Linked DNA regions of Homo sapiens: region 2 is linked to region 1. The links come from fine-mapping of genetic effects on plasma protein levels. A gene starts in region 1. The other region holds a variant in brackets. All regions are shown on one strand. Distances are between the middles of the regions.

Region 1 (8,418 bases):
GCCCAGGAGGTCAAGGCTACAGTGAGCTGTGATCACATCACTGCACTCCAGCCTGGGTGATAGAGCAAGACCCTGTCTCACAAAAAAATAAAAATAAATAAATAAAAATAAAAAATTAAAAAAAAAAACAAGACATGCCCTGTCTCTCCTTGAAGTGATTTCAGTGGATTCCTTTCTGGATGGTGCTGTAGCCCAGGGTACATTGAATTCCAATCTCTTTTCTGTGTCCAGCTACTTTGCCATTCACCCTTTGTTGGAGGGGAGGTGCAATGAGGAAGAGAAGAGCAAAAACGACTCCAGCCCTTCTACAGCTTGCCTGGATCCCAGCCAAAGCAGTCGCAGTTAGACACCACTCCCTGAGAAGTGACAGTTCCAACACAATCTACGCAAACAGCTGGCAACCCTTGGAGCTAATCTATAAGGTGTCACCTGTGCCCTTTTATTGTCCAGCAGATCTCAACTCAGGCTGTAAAGCATCTGGGGATTCATAGCCTCCAGCCTGTGTGTCCTTTGGGGTTTCCTCAGAACGGACAACTGAAACCTGAATTTTGGGTCTAAAATGAATTTTAGGGCCCAGGCCTATTCCCTGGGCAATGATTTGAAGATCCCTCCTTCCCAATATGTCTAACCCAAAAAACATCCCAGGCTGCCCGTTAAGATGCCTGAAAATAATTCACTTATTCACTCAACAAACATGTTTTGAACACCTACTGCATTGGCACTGCACCAGGCACTAATCACAACTGTAGTAACAGTGACTCAGGCAATCTAGCGCAAGCTCTCTGAACAAACGGGCCCTGGACTTACTTGCCACTGAATCCTCAATAGCCCTGGTTCAGAGCTATTCAAAATATATCCAGAGAAAGAATGGGAACAGAGAGGGGGCTGCTATTGTGAAAATAAGTATCTACTGAGGGTTGACTTGTGGCAGGTACTGCTCTAGATGTTGAGGAGACAACGGTGAGCAAAACAGACAAAAGCCCTGGCCTCAAGGATCTTACAGTCTAGGGGGCTGAAGAGGAGACTGGGAGACAGAAAATGAAAAACATAAGTAAACAGGATGGAACATAAATGGAGATGAGGACTATGGAGAAAAATTAAGTGGAGAGAGAGCTAAGAGTTTGCAGAATGGCAGGCTGACATTTTCAGTGGGGAAGGCATCACTGAAAAGGAGGTATTTGAGCAAAACTCTGAGGGGTTGAGGGAAGAGGCCATGTAGCCAGCAAAGGAGCAGCATCCCAGGCAGAGAAAACTGTGGATACAACAGAGAGCGAGGTCCAGGACCAGCAGGCAACATGGCTGAAATGCTGTGAGCAAGAGGAGAGACAAAGAGGAGTGGGTCTTGGACGCCAGGTCACGCACCATTGTAAAATGCATGGCTTTTACTCTGCATGAAAGAAGAAGTCTTTGGAAGAATTTCGCAATGCTCAAGAGTTATATGCACATCTTACATAAATAGTACTCCTGTTAAATTATTCAGTAAACAAAGTGGTTTTTTAAATTTCACTGTCATCATATGACTCCTGATGGGATGCGCTGAAAAAGACACAGTATCACTTTTGTGGTATTCCTGTCAAAAATGCATATAATATCTGCTGTCAATGGGCACAGAAAAAAATTTTTTTAAAGAAAAAATAATTTTAAAAATGCATATGATGGCTAGGCATGATGGCTCACACTTGTAGTCCCACCACTTTGGGAGACTGAGGCAGGTGGATCGCCTGAGCCCGGGAGTTCAAGACCACCCTGGGCAACATGGGGAAACCCTGTATCTACAAAAAAAAAAAAAAAAATTAGCCAGGCATGGTGGCACAGACCTCTAGTTCCAGCTACCAGGGAGGCTGAGGTGGGAGGATGGCTTGAGCCTGCGAGGTCGAGGCTACAGTGAGCCGTGAGCATGCCACTGCACTCCAGTCTGGGTGAAAGAACCAGATCCTCTCTTGAAAAATAATAATAGGCCGGGCACAGTGGCTCACACCTGGTATCCCAGCACTTTTGAGAGGCGGAGGTGGGTGGATCACTTGAGGTCAGGAGTTTAAGACCAGCCTGGCCAACATGGTGAAACCCTGTCTCCACCAAAAATACAAAAATTAGCCAGGCTTGGTGGCATGCATCTGTAGTCCCAGCTACTCGGGAGGCTGAGGCAGGACAATCACTTGAACCCGGGGGAGCAGAAGTTGCAGTGAGCCGAGATTGGACCACTGTACTCCAGCCCAGGCCACAGAGCGAGACTCCATCTCTAAAAAATAATAATAATGATGATATAAAATAAATAAAAATGCATATGATAACCTGAATCATATGAGGGAACATCAGACAAACCCAGATTAAGGAACCCTCTACAAAACAACTGGCTTGTCTTCTTCAAGAATGCAATATCATGAAAGATGAAGAAAGGTTAAAGTATGGTCATAGACTGAACATGAGAAACATAACAACTGAATGTAATACATGATCTTGATTGCATCTTGGGTCAGCAAAAAAAAAAAATAAAGCATATTCTTGGGACAATTGGTAATATGTGAATATGGAAAGCATATTTGATGGTATTAATGTTAAATTTACTGAATTTGACAATTGTGCTGTAGTAACATGAGAATGTCTTTGTTCATAGGATATAAGTGCTAAAATATTTAGGAGTAAGGGGACATAATGTCACAACTTGTTCTCAAGTGGTTCAGCAAAAATTATTGTACATTTATACACACATATACATACAGCTAGAGAAAGAGAAATAAAGTAAATGTGATAAAATGTTAATTGGTGAATCTAGATGAAAGAAATTCAAGAATCGTTTGAACTATTCTTGCAGCTTCCCTGGAACTTCACAATTATTTCAAACTAAAAAGCTTAAAAATTAAAGAAATAGAGCAGCTTCAGTCAACTTATGCCAGGCCTGCCCTATAGACACAGGATGGAGGAGGAAGCAGCTCAGGAAGACCCAAGTCCATCCCTCCCTGTGCCTAACAAGTCACTCACCAGCTTCACCGTGCAAGGGCCGGCATAGCCAAGCCCAGCTATGGTGCTGAAGCCCTGGGAATGGGGGTGGAGGGAGCATTGCCCTCTGTCACACAGGCTCATGACCTCAGGGTCATAACCTCAGCTTCTCTGTTACTCTCATCCCCACAGCCAGGCACCAATCCCATCAGTCCTCCTTCGGCTGTCTGAGCTGCATTCAAGGATCCTTAGACCAGGTTCCAACCTAGCTCTCCTGCCTAGAATCCTGGGCCACTAGGCCCCCCAACCCACCCACAAGAGCTGCAGGCTCCACTCCTCCCTCCCTGCTCCCTGTTCCTCATCATGCTCTGCCCTAGGCTGCCTGCATCCTTACAAATGTTGAGTCCACCTGAGCCTTGACTGTGTCTTCCTGAAGGACACAAGAATGCTCAGGGACTCGGTAACTGAATTGAGTACCTGGGCATGGGACTTTATTGCATATGGGGCTTCTACCTGGCCCTGAACCCACACAACACTATGCCTCAGTTTCCCCTCTTTGTGCCCAGAGTGTACCCTCCTCTAATTCCACGCTCTCCACCTCCGTGAAGCCCCTGCAGAGTCACTGATCTAAAATGCAGAACCCTGGCTGGGCATGGTGGCTCACACCTGTAATCCCAGCACTTTGGATGGGGGAGACCAAGGTGGGCAGATCACCTGAGGTCAGGAGTTCAAGACCAGCCTGGCCAACATGGTGAAACCTGGTCTCTACTAAAAATACAAAAATTAGCCAAGCATGGTGGCGCACGTCTGTAATTTCACCTACTCGGGAGGCTGAGGCATGAGAATCACTTGAACCCGGGAGGCAGAGTTTGTAGTGAGCCAAGATCACGCCACTGCACTCCAGCCTGGGTGACAGAAGGAGACTCTGTCTCAAAAAATAAATAAATAAATAAAAATTAAAAATGAAATAAATAAATTAATTCAATTAAATTAAATGCGGGATCCAGGTTTCAGAGCATCCTGGACCCCAGAACTGGAGAAAGAGGGGAGCAGCCCTCAGCTGGGATCCCCAGGAGTAAATGTTAGATGGCTCCATGCCTGGCTGACAGCTTTAGGTTTGCTGTGGAGCTTCCTCATATTGTCTCCTTCTTCTGCCCCAACCCTGCATGTCCCTAATAATTTCCAGGCTCCTGTGGCATCTGGATGGCTGAAGAAGCCGGGGAGATGAGGGACCATGCCTTCCAGCTTCTTCCTGGCTGCTGGCCTCGCCCTCCCCTCCCTGGGCTCAGCTTTCCTGCCTCAGGGGTCCATCCATCTGTCTCTGAGCTCGAGAACCACCCACTTCCTTGGGACTGCTTCTCTTCTCTCATGCCACAATTGGAGGATGCAATTTTCATCATCTTTACAGGCGGCTGGAAGGAGGCTTCTCTCTCCACTACACGGAAGGGTAAATTGAAGCCAGTGGGAAGGAATCTCCTCACCCAAGACTTCCTGGATTGCTGGTGGCAGGGCCAGATACCCCTCTCACAGACCTCCCAGTGCACTGCCAGCCTGTCCTGTCTGATTTAGACTGTCAGAGCTGTCAGGAGCTGCTCGGAGTCAAGTTCCAGATGACTGTGTATGTGGCACAAGCAGAGGCTCTGGCTCTGATCTCCCTGAGGGGCACAGCTCCTAGTCCCTCCCTCGCCCCACGCCAGGTAGGACCTCCTTACCTTTGCCCTGATACACCTTGAGGAGCAGGAGGAGTATGAGGGTGACCACTTGCCCCAGCATTTCCACAGGACAGAGGGGCCAGGCCAGCCCCTCCACCCCACCAGACTCTCTGCCGTGCACGGGCTCAGCAGTCCCCAGTCAGCAAGAGGACGATGGGGAGCAGAACTGCCTTGCAACCTGTCCAGCCACAGTTTCCTCAATTAGAGGCTGTTAACGCCTGCTGTGAGCTGACAAGGCCACTGAGAAAGCCCCAGCGCCTGGAGCTGGTCTGACAGTTCCCACAAGCCAAACTGGTGAAGCTTACCTCAAGTGGGAGGGTGCTTGAAGTTCACAGTGACTCACAAAGCCAGTTTCAAAATTGCATCCCGTTCTCTGCTTCAGCCCAAGAAGTCTTCCAATTCTCTGAATCCTATATGGAGAGACCCCCATGGGGGCCAAACAGCCAGTATCCCCAACTGTTCCATTCCAACAGACATTGTGGAGGTGGAGTGGAGAGGGGCTGGAGGAGGAGTGGGCTGAAACGTAGGGCCCTGGATAAGCGGCTAACAGTGTTGAAGGAAAGGAGGAGTAGCTGAGAGAACATAGGAAGAGACCTAAGGGCTGGAGGCACTAGAAAAATCTAGCAAGCCTGGGGATTCCATGCAAGTTGACACCAAAGTTTAAGCACATGTAAATTAAATTTGTTTCATAAGAATTTGTTTCACACGGGGCACAGTGGCTCACGCCTGTAATCCCAACACTTTGGGAGACTGAAGCAGGCAGATCACTTGAGATCAGGAGATCGAGACTAGCCTGGCCAATATGGTGAATCCCCACCTCTACTAAAAATAGAGAAATTAGCCAGGCTGGGTGGCGTGCACCTGTAATCCAAGCTACTTGGGAGGCTGAGGCAGGGGAATCACTTGAGCAAAGGAGGTGGAGGTTGCGGTAAGCCAAGATCACGCCACTGCACTCCAGCCTAGGTGACAGAGCGACACTGTGTCTCAAAAAAAAAAAAAAAAATTTTGTTTTGCTCCACATTTCCGATCTGTATGCCTAGATTCCCTCCCTTCCTCTTTTTCTACTTTTCTATAGTAGTCCTCTCTTCCCTCTTTTGTCTTCTCCCAGAAGTGACATGGGCCTATTTTTGCTGCCTTCCCATCCATGCTTGGACGCCACCCTCCAGGAAGGCCAGGCAGCTCTGGATCTGCTTAGGCCCCCATGGAGGGGTGGGGACAGCGGCATCCCCCCTCCCCTGGAACACTGTGCTTCAAGGCCAGGCCCCAGGGTTCATGCCTCTTTCTTTCTTCCTTCTGCTTTCCCCTTAACAAATACTTTCAGTTCCCTTCAAGTCCGCTCTTATTCTCTTTTTCCATCCTTTGGTCCATTTCCAGCCACCCTGTCTGAACTGGGCAGGGGGCAGCAGACTGACAGCTTCAGCTGCCAACAGAGGCAGCAGCGGGGCTCTGGACAGAGCGCTGGATTTAGAGTCAAAGACTTGGACTTGCAGCTCCCATTCAGCAACTTACAACCTATGTGATTCTGGCCTTGTTGCTGTCTGAGCCTGTAGGGTCAACAATACATCCTCCCCACCTTCACAAGGCAGTTTTCAGGATCAAATTAAAAATGATACTCCAGAATATGCACACAAAAAACACTGGACATAGATGAGGTTTTTGTGGTTTTGTTTTCATTTTTTTAAGCTCTGAATAGCTTTTTCCAGCGGGTCTAATGGTTATCATCTCTTCTCTCCTTTGTCTGCTCCCAAGGGGCAGCCCTCAACCCTGGGGAATTTCTTCAGAGTTGATCTGGCCATGTCCTTAACCTTGAGAAGTGGTGCACAAGACATGATATAACAAAGAAGGGTAAACTTCCTCACACGACAGGTGGAAAACAAGATCCAGCTGTTGGAACCCACTAATGAATGTGAATTAGGAATCAGCCTCTCCAATCCTGACCCCAACACCAGCTCCATCCTTCCCACCAGGCATGTGGATGACCTATCATCCCCTGGAAACAGAACTCGGAGCAGCTGTACCACTGAGTGTGTGTCTGTCTTGTGGTCCCTGACAAACTCTATCACACAATATCTGCTATTTGTAGGCTGATCGCAGTGGCTCATGCCTATAATCCCAGCACTTTGGGAGGCCAAGGCAGGTGGATCACTTGAGGTCAGGGGTTCGATATCAGCCTGGCCAACACGGTGAAACCTCATCTCTACTAAAAATACAAAAATTAGCCGGGTGTGGTGGTGTGTGCCTGTAATCCCAGCTACTCGGGAGGCTGAGGCAGGAGACTCCTTTGAACCTGGGAGGCAGAGGTTGCAGTGAGCTGAGATTGTGCCTCTGCACTCCAGCCTGGGAGACAGAGCAAGACTCTGTCACAAAAAAAAAAAAAAAAAAAAAGGTGCTGGGCGCAGTGACTCACACCTGTAATCCCAGCACTTTGGGAGGCCTAGGTGGGTGGATTACCTGAGGTTAGGAGTTTGAGACCAACCTGGCTAACATGGTGAAACCCCGTTTTTACTAAAAATGCAAAAAATAAGCCAGGTGTGGTGTTGCATGCCTGTAATCCCAGCTACTTAGGAGGCTGAGGCAGGAGAATCATTTGAACCCAGGAAAAGGAGGTTGCAGTGAGCCGAAATCACGCCATTGCATTCCAGCTTGGGCAACAAGAGCAAAAACAAACAAACAAACAACAATAATAAAAAAAAAAAACAACCTGCCATTTGTTCTACACACTGACCTCCCCAGCCCTGAGCTCTTCAACACAAAGTCTATGCTCTCCTTAGCTTAGTGTTTCCAAGCCTCACCCAGCGCCTGGTTCTTCAGAGTTGATTCGTAGATTGTCAAGTGCTGAAGGAATGAATGAATTCTCTAAGGAAGACATTTCTATTTCCCCTGAGATAGACTGGTTAGCTGAGTCACCATGGACCCTGCCCTCGTGGAGTTTTTATCTTGCCCTTCCTAATTTTTGTGCAGAGAGTCCTTCTGTGCAACTCAGCCACTTTAGCACGAGGACCCAAGACCTACAAAATCAATATAAACCAGAGACTCCCTTAGCTACATTTCCCATACATATTCACGAGATCTTTATAAGTCTGGGACAGGGGACTCAGACAGGGGCATTTAAAGGTTAGCGGCCATCTGGGAATCAAAGGTTCATAAACCCCTGCCCAAACCATGCTTTCATCAAGCTTCGGTGAGTCAAGGTCATTCCAGTAAATCCCACTTCTGATGCCAACTACAAATTTCATGAGTCCCCAGGACCACCCATTTCTGAGACAAATTGCAAGTTTGAGGTCCCCAAGACCATCTTCAGGTTTGATAATTAACTAGAATGACTCACAAAACTCACTGAAAGCTGTTTTACAAATGTTTTACTCAAGCCTTCACAAAGAACCCAACTGATCTTATAGGTATAGTCAACCAATCTTGCAAGAATTCAACAAATAACTTCTGTAATATTAGAGTTTATTAAAGCAAAAAATACAGATGAAAATGAGCCAAGGGAAGAGGTACCTAAGGCAAGGTCCAGGAGAGTCCCAAACAAAGGAGTCAGTCACAGCACTTCCAGTTCTCCTCTCCCAGTGGAGCTGTGCAGACAGGGCCTACTTCTCCCAGAAACTATGTGTGACAATACACACAGAGAATATTGTTAAGCAGGGAAGCTCTTCCAAGTCTTGGTGTCCAGAATTTTTATTGGGACTTGCTCACATAGACATGGCTGACCACCCATGTGGCTGACCATAGTCTCTGGCCCCTCCAGAAATTGAGTTGATGCTATGTG
Region 2 (3,998 bases), 22 kb before region 1:
TTCCTTGGGACTGGTCTCTGAGGGAGGAAGAAAACAAAGAGCAGAGCTGCAGAAACCTCCAGAAGGGCTTTTGCTTCTAACAGGTCCCACCTCTACCCCAAATGGCCAAACCTTAAAAAAGGTTCTAGAAAGGAGGCAAGTTAATGCTCTTCCCAGGAACCCCAAAGAGCACAGAGGCAGCAACCGAACTGCCCCTCCCACACCTCCTCCCAAACCAGCTGTCTACAGGGAAATCTGCGCATTGGGATCAGAAGGCATGAACTGGGAGAGAGAGCCTAGCAACCTGCTTGCCCCCCGCCACCACGCACACAAACATACCAAAGCTCGTTGAGGAAAAGGAGATGCTGTGCTCCCAGACACATCCCACTGGACGCAGGACAAAGTCACAGGATCCAAGGCCTCAGGCAGGAGCACCACCCTAAGGACCTTCCACTCACCTGACTGCTTCTCCTTCCTCTTTCTCCTCCACACACAGAAGCAGGCAAGGGTGCCAAGGAACAGTGCGCTTAGAATCACGATGATCACCAAAAACGGCCAAAATCTGAATTCTGAGGAATACAGAAGGCGTGAGAACTGAGCTGTCAGCTCGCTCTCTTCTTCCTTCCCACCTGCCTGCTGCAGGGGCTGCCTCAAAACCCACTTTTCTCTGTGTTGTGGCTGATTGCCTCGTGCTCTGAGAACTCACGGTCAAGGTTTTCTCTTTGCTCATTTGGTTAACCTCCTCTGAGTGATGCCAAGAGCATAGATATATCAGACAGGCCTGGCTCAAATTCTAACCCTGTGAGCTCTGCACTATTTATTTAACCTCTCTGGGCCTCTCAAGTCATCTTATTTTTGGAAGATGCCTCAGAGCCTCTTAGATTTTCTCACCTGTAAAAGGGGATAACGTTATCTACCTATAGGGGTTAATTACATGATCTAATACAGTTGCCCTCCAAAGTTTTGAGTTCCACAATGTGGATTCAATGAATTGTGGATCCAGAATATTCAGGGAAAAAAAATGCATGTGTATTGAATATGTAGAGGCCTTTTTCCTTGTCATTATTCCCTAAACAATACAGTATAACAACTATTTAAATAGCATTTACATTGTATCAGGCATTATAACTAATTTAGAGGTGACTTAAGTAAGGTATACAGAAGGATGTGTGCATAGGTTATATGCAAAAACTGCACCTGTTTATGCCAGGGACTTAAACATTCGTGGATCTTGGCATCTGTGGTTGCGAGGTGGGTCCTGGAACTAATTCGTCATGGATACTGAGGGACATGTAGCACAACAAATGTTACATTTATCCATTCCTTTGTTTTTAACTCAAAAAATACTCATTGTACAGGCAAGTTTTCCGTCTCACTTTTCCACTATTCCTTCCTTCATGGCTCTTCCTCATTTGAACTTCTACTTAAAAGATTTGTGTCACACATGTAGCCTGATATATAATCCAGCCAACAAGAGGAAGGAAAAGGAATTAAGTGTTCCAAGGGCTGACAAGGCTCTTTGCAAACATTATCTCATTTACTCTTAACAGCAATCCTGTGAGGTACTTATTATCACCCCCATTTTACTCAAGGGGGGAAGAAAATTGAGGCTCAGAGAGGTTAATGAATCTGCCAGAGATCACAGAGCTTCTTTTTTTTTTTTTTTTAAATAGAGATGGGATTACACCATATTGTCCAGGCTGGTCTCAAACACCTGGACTCAAGTGATCCACCTGCCTCAGCCTCCCAAAGTGCTAGGATTACATGTGTGAGCCACCACACCTGACCTCTAAGAGATCACAGAGCTTCTGAATGATGAAGCCAGTGTCCTAGTTCAGTGGCATGATCTTGACTCACTGCAACCTCCGCCTCCTGGGTTCAAGCAATTCTCCTGCCTCAGCCTCCTGAGTAGCTGAGATTACAGGTGCCCGCCAACACGCCCAGCTAATTTTTTGTATTTTTAGTAGAGACAGGGTTTCACCATGTTGGCCAGGCTGGTCTCAAACTCCTGACCTTGTGATCCACCCACCTCAGCCTCCCAAAGTGCTGGGATTACAGGGAGCCACTGCGCCCGGCCTGCCTCAGTCTTGTTTCTTTTTTGTCCACAAGTAGTTATTTTTGTTGCCCCATTTGGCTATAAGTTCCTTATGAATGAGAGCTGTATGGTTTTTTTTTCCTATAATGCCCATGCTGCTGGTACATTAAGTCCCTGTTTATGTAATAAAAAGTTGTGGAACGGTAACTCAGGTAACTCTTAGGATGAGCATAAGCAACAGCCCAAGAACTCATCTAGGTATCCCTGGGGTCATCCTGATGCTCCTGCTCCAGGCTACTGCTGCACAGTGTAGTTACCTCTTGAACTATGTGGCTTGGAGAAAGTTATCACTCAAGAGGAGAGGACAGTTCTCCATCAGCCTCTCCCAGGAAGAAAATAATGTTCAGGAGCCATTTCAGGACTGTCACTCACCAAACAACTATGCCCTCCCTCTGCAGAAGAAAAGCTTGCATCTCCCAGAAGGAAATAGGGATAACATTTTTTTCCAGAGTAGGATAGGCCTAGCTTTACAGGAACTGTGTGCCTGGAGGCCAGGGCTACCCTGGGAAGGGCTACAAGGCACTGGGAGAGGAGGCCAAGGGATTTTATCTCATACCACATCTGTCTTGCACATGAGCCTGGTTGCGGGGTCCAAACCTTCAGCGCTTGTTATAGCCCAGTGTGTTCCACTTACCCTGATGGGCATTCTGACAGTCCTGAGTGAGATTCAGGGTGTGGCTTTCCCAGCTAACAGGATTGCTGACATTGCAGGTATATGTGTGAGTGCCATTAATGTCAACCTCCTCGTCCAGGTAGGTGAGGTTCCCTGCTGTCTGGATCAGCTTGCTCCCTCTGTACCAAGCATAGGACACATTGCCATCCCTGGAGACCAAGCAAGACAGAGCCACTTGGCATCTCCCTCTGTCCAGGATCTTCCCCTGCCCCTGTAGGCGGGGTTTCTCAACTTTATCTGGAAGCAGAGATTCTGATCAGAAAGGCATTGGAAATACAGAACTTAGAGGCCTATAGGAATCAGAGAGGGCAGTATGAACAGTCCTGGAGACTTAC[C/G]AAATACAAAAACCTGGAACGTGGCTGTCTGAACTTTTCCAGATATACTGGTGACCTCCAGGCAGTAGAGGCCACTGTCCTGCTGCTGAGCTGCCTTGATGAGAAGACTCAAGTTCTTGACTATAAAACTGAATCTATCATTGGAAGTATTGGAAGGCAAAGAGCCATTCTCCCACTTCAATATGTGATGAAATCCATTTTGTGAGGGCAGCAACTTCTTCCATGCAATGCTGTCAACCTTCGTCTGTATGCTGTTTGGTTGTAACTGAAGAGGCACTCCCGAGATGCTAACCACATGGTCAGCTGATCCCTGGCATCCTAGGAAAGAGAACCCAAGCTGAAAGTAGCGGGAAGAGTGTCAGGCCTGAGCAATGTGGGCAGCTGGATGTGACTTCCCTTAAGCCAATTGGGTGGGGATGAGTATGAGGAGCCCAGAACCTAGGAGCACCTTAAAGCATATCCCCTCCATCTGCCTCCCCTTGTCCCCAAGCTCTGTGTCCCTAGTCTGAGGGATCCCATAGACCAATAGCTAAAATCTTGAGTACTTACTATGTGACAGGCAGGTTTCACACTTTATACATTTTAACTATTTAAGTTAAAAGGTATGATGAGTTAAAAGAATGATGAGCCTGAAACCTAGTCAGTTTGGTGTTATGTTTTTGTTTTCTTTTGTTTTGTTTTCTAGAGACAGGGTCTCACTCTGTCACCCAGGCTGGAGTGCAGTGGCGCAATCACAGCTCACTGCAGCCTTGAACTCCTGGGCTTGAGGTGATCCTCCCATCTCAACCTCCCTAGTAGCTGGGAGCACAGGTGCTAGGGAGCTTATTTGTTTACTCTTTGTAAAGACAGCAGTTTGGCTTGAGAGGATAAATTCTTAACCATGATGCTATAAATACCACATCTAAGGTGACTCCCT

The links. PIP is the chance, under the fine-mapping model, that this variant and not a neighbour inherited with it causes the effect. The UK Biobank Pharma Proteomics Project read protein levels with antibody pairs (Olink). The fine-mapping took linkage between variants from a reference panel, not from the people measured, so its PIPs are less certain.
Region 2: its variant is fine-mapped to the plasma level of the CD244 protein (UK Biobank, PIP above 0.99). The variant lies in the coding sequence of CD244. If it changes the protein, the assay may bind it differently, which can mimic a change of level.

The regions. Positions count from the first base shown.
Region 1 is chr1:160,857,968-160,866,385 of GRCh38, forward strand. It overlaps CD244 (CD244 molecule), which reads right to left and starts at 4,920. Exons shown (of 9, transcript NM_016382.4): 1 at 4,650-4,920. The coding sequence starts at 4,710. RefSeq lists an enhancer at 4,736-4,785.
Region 2 is chr1:160,838,502-160,842,499 of GRCh38, forward strand. CD244 (CD244 molecule) reads right to left here. Exons shown (of 9, transcript NM_016382.4): 2 at 3,083-3,400; 3 at 2,709-2,984; 4 at 438-548; 5 at 1-17. Among named protein-coding and RNA genes, the nearest start is that of CD244, 22 kb to the right of the region's middle. The variant C/G (reference allele first, on the strand shown) is at 3,083.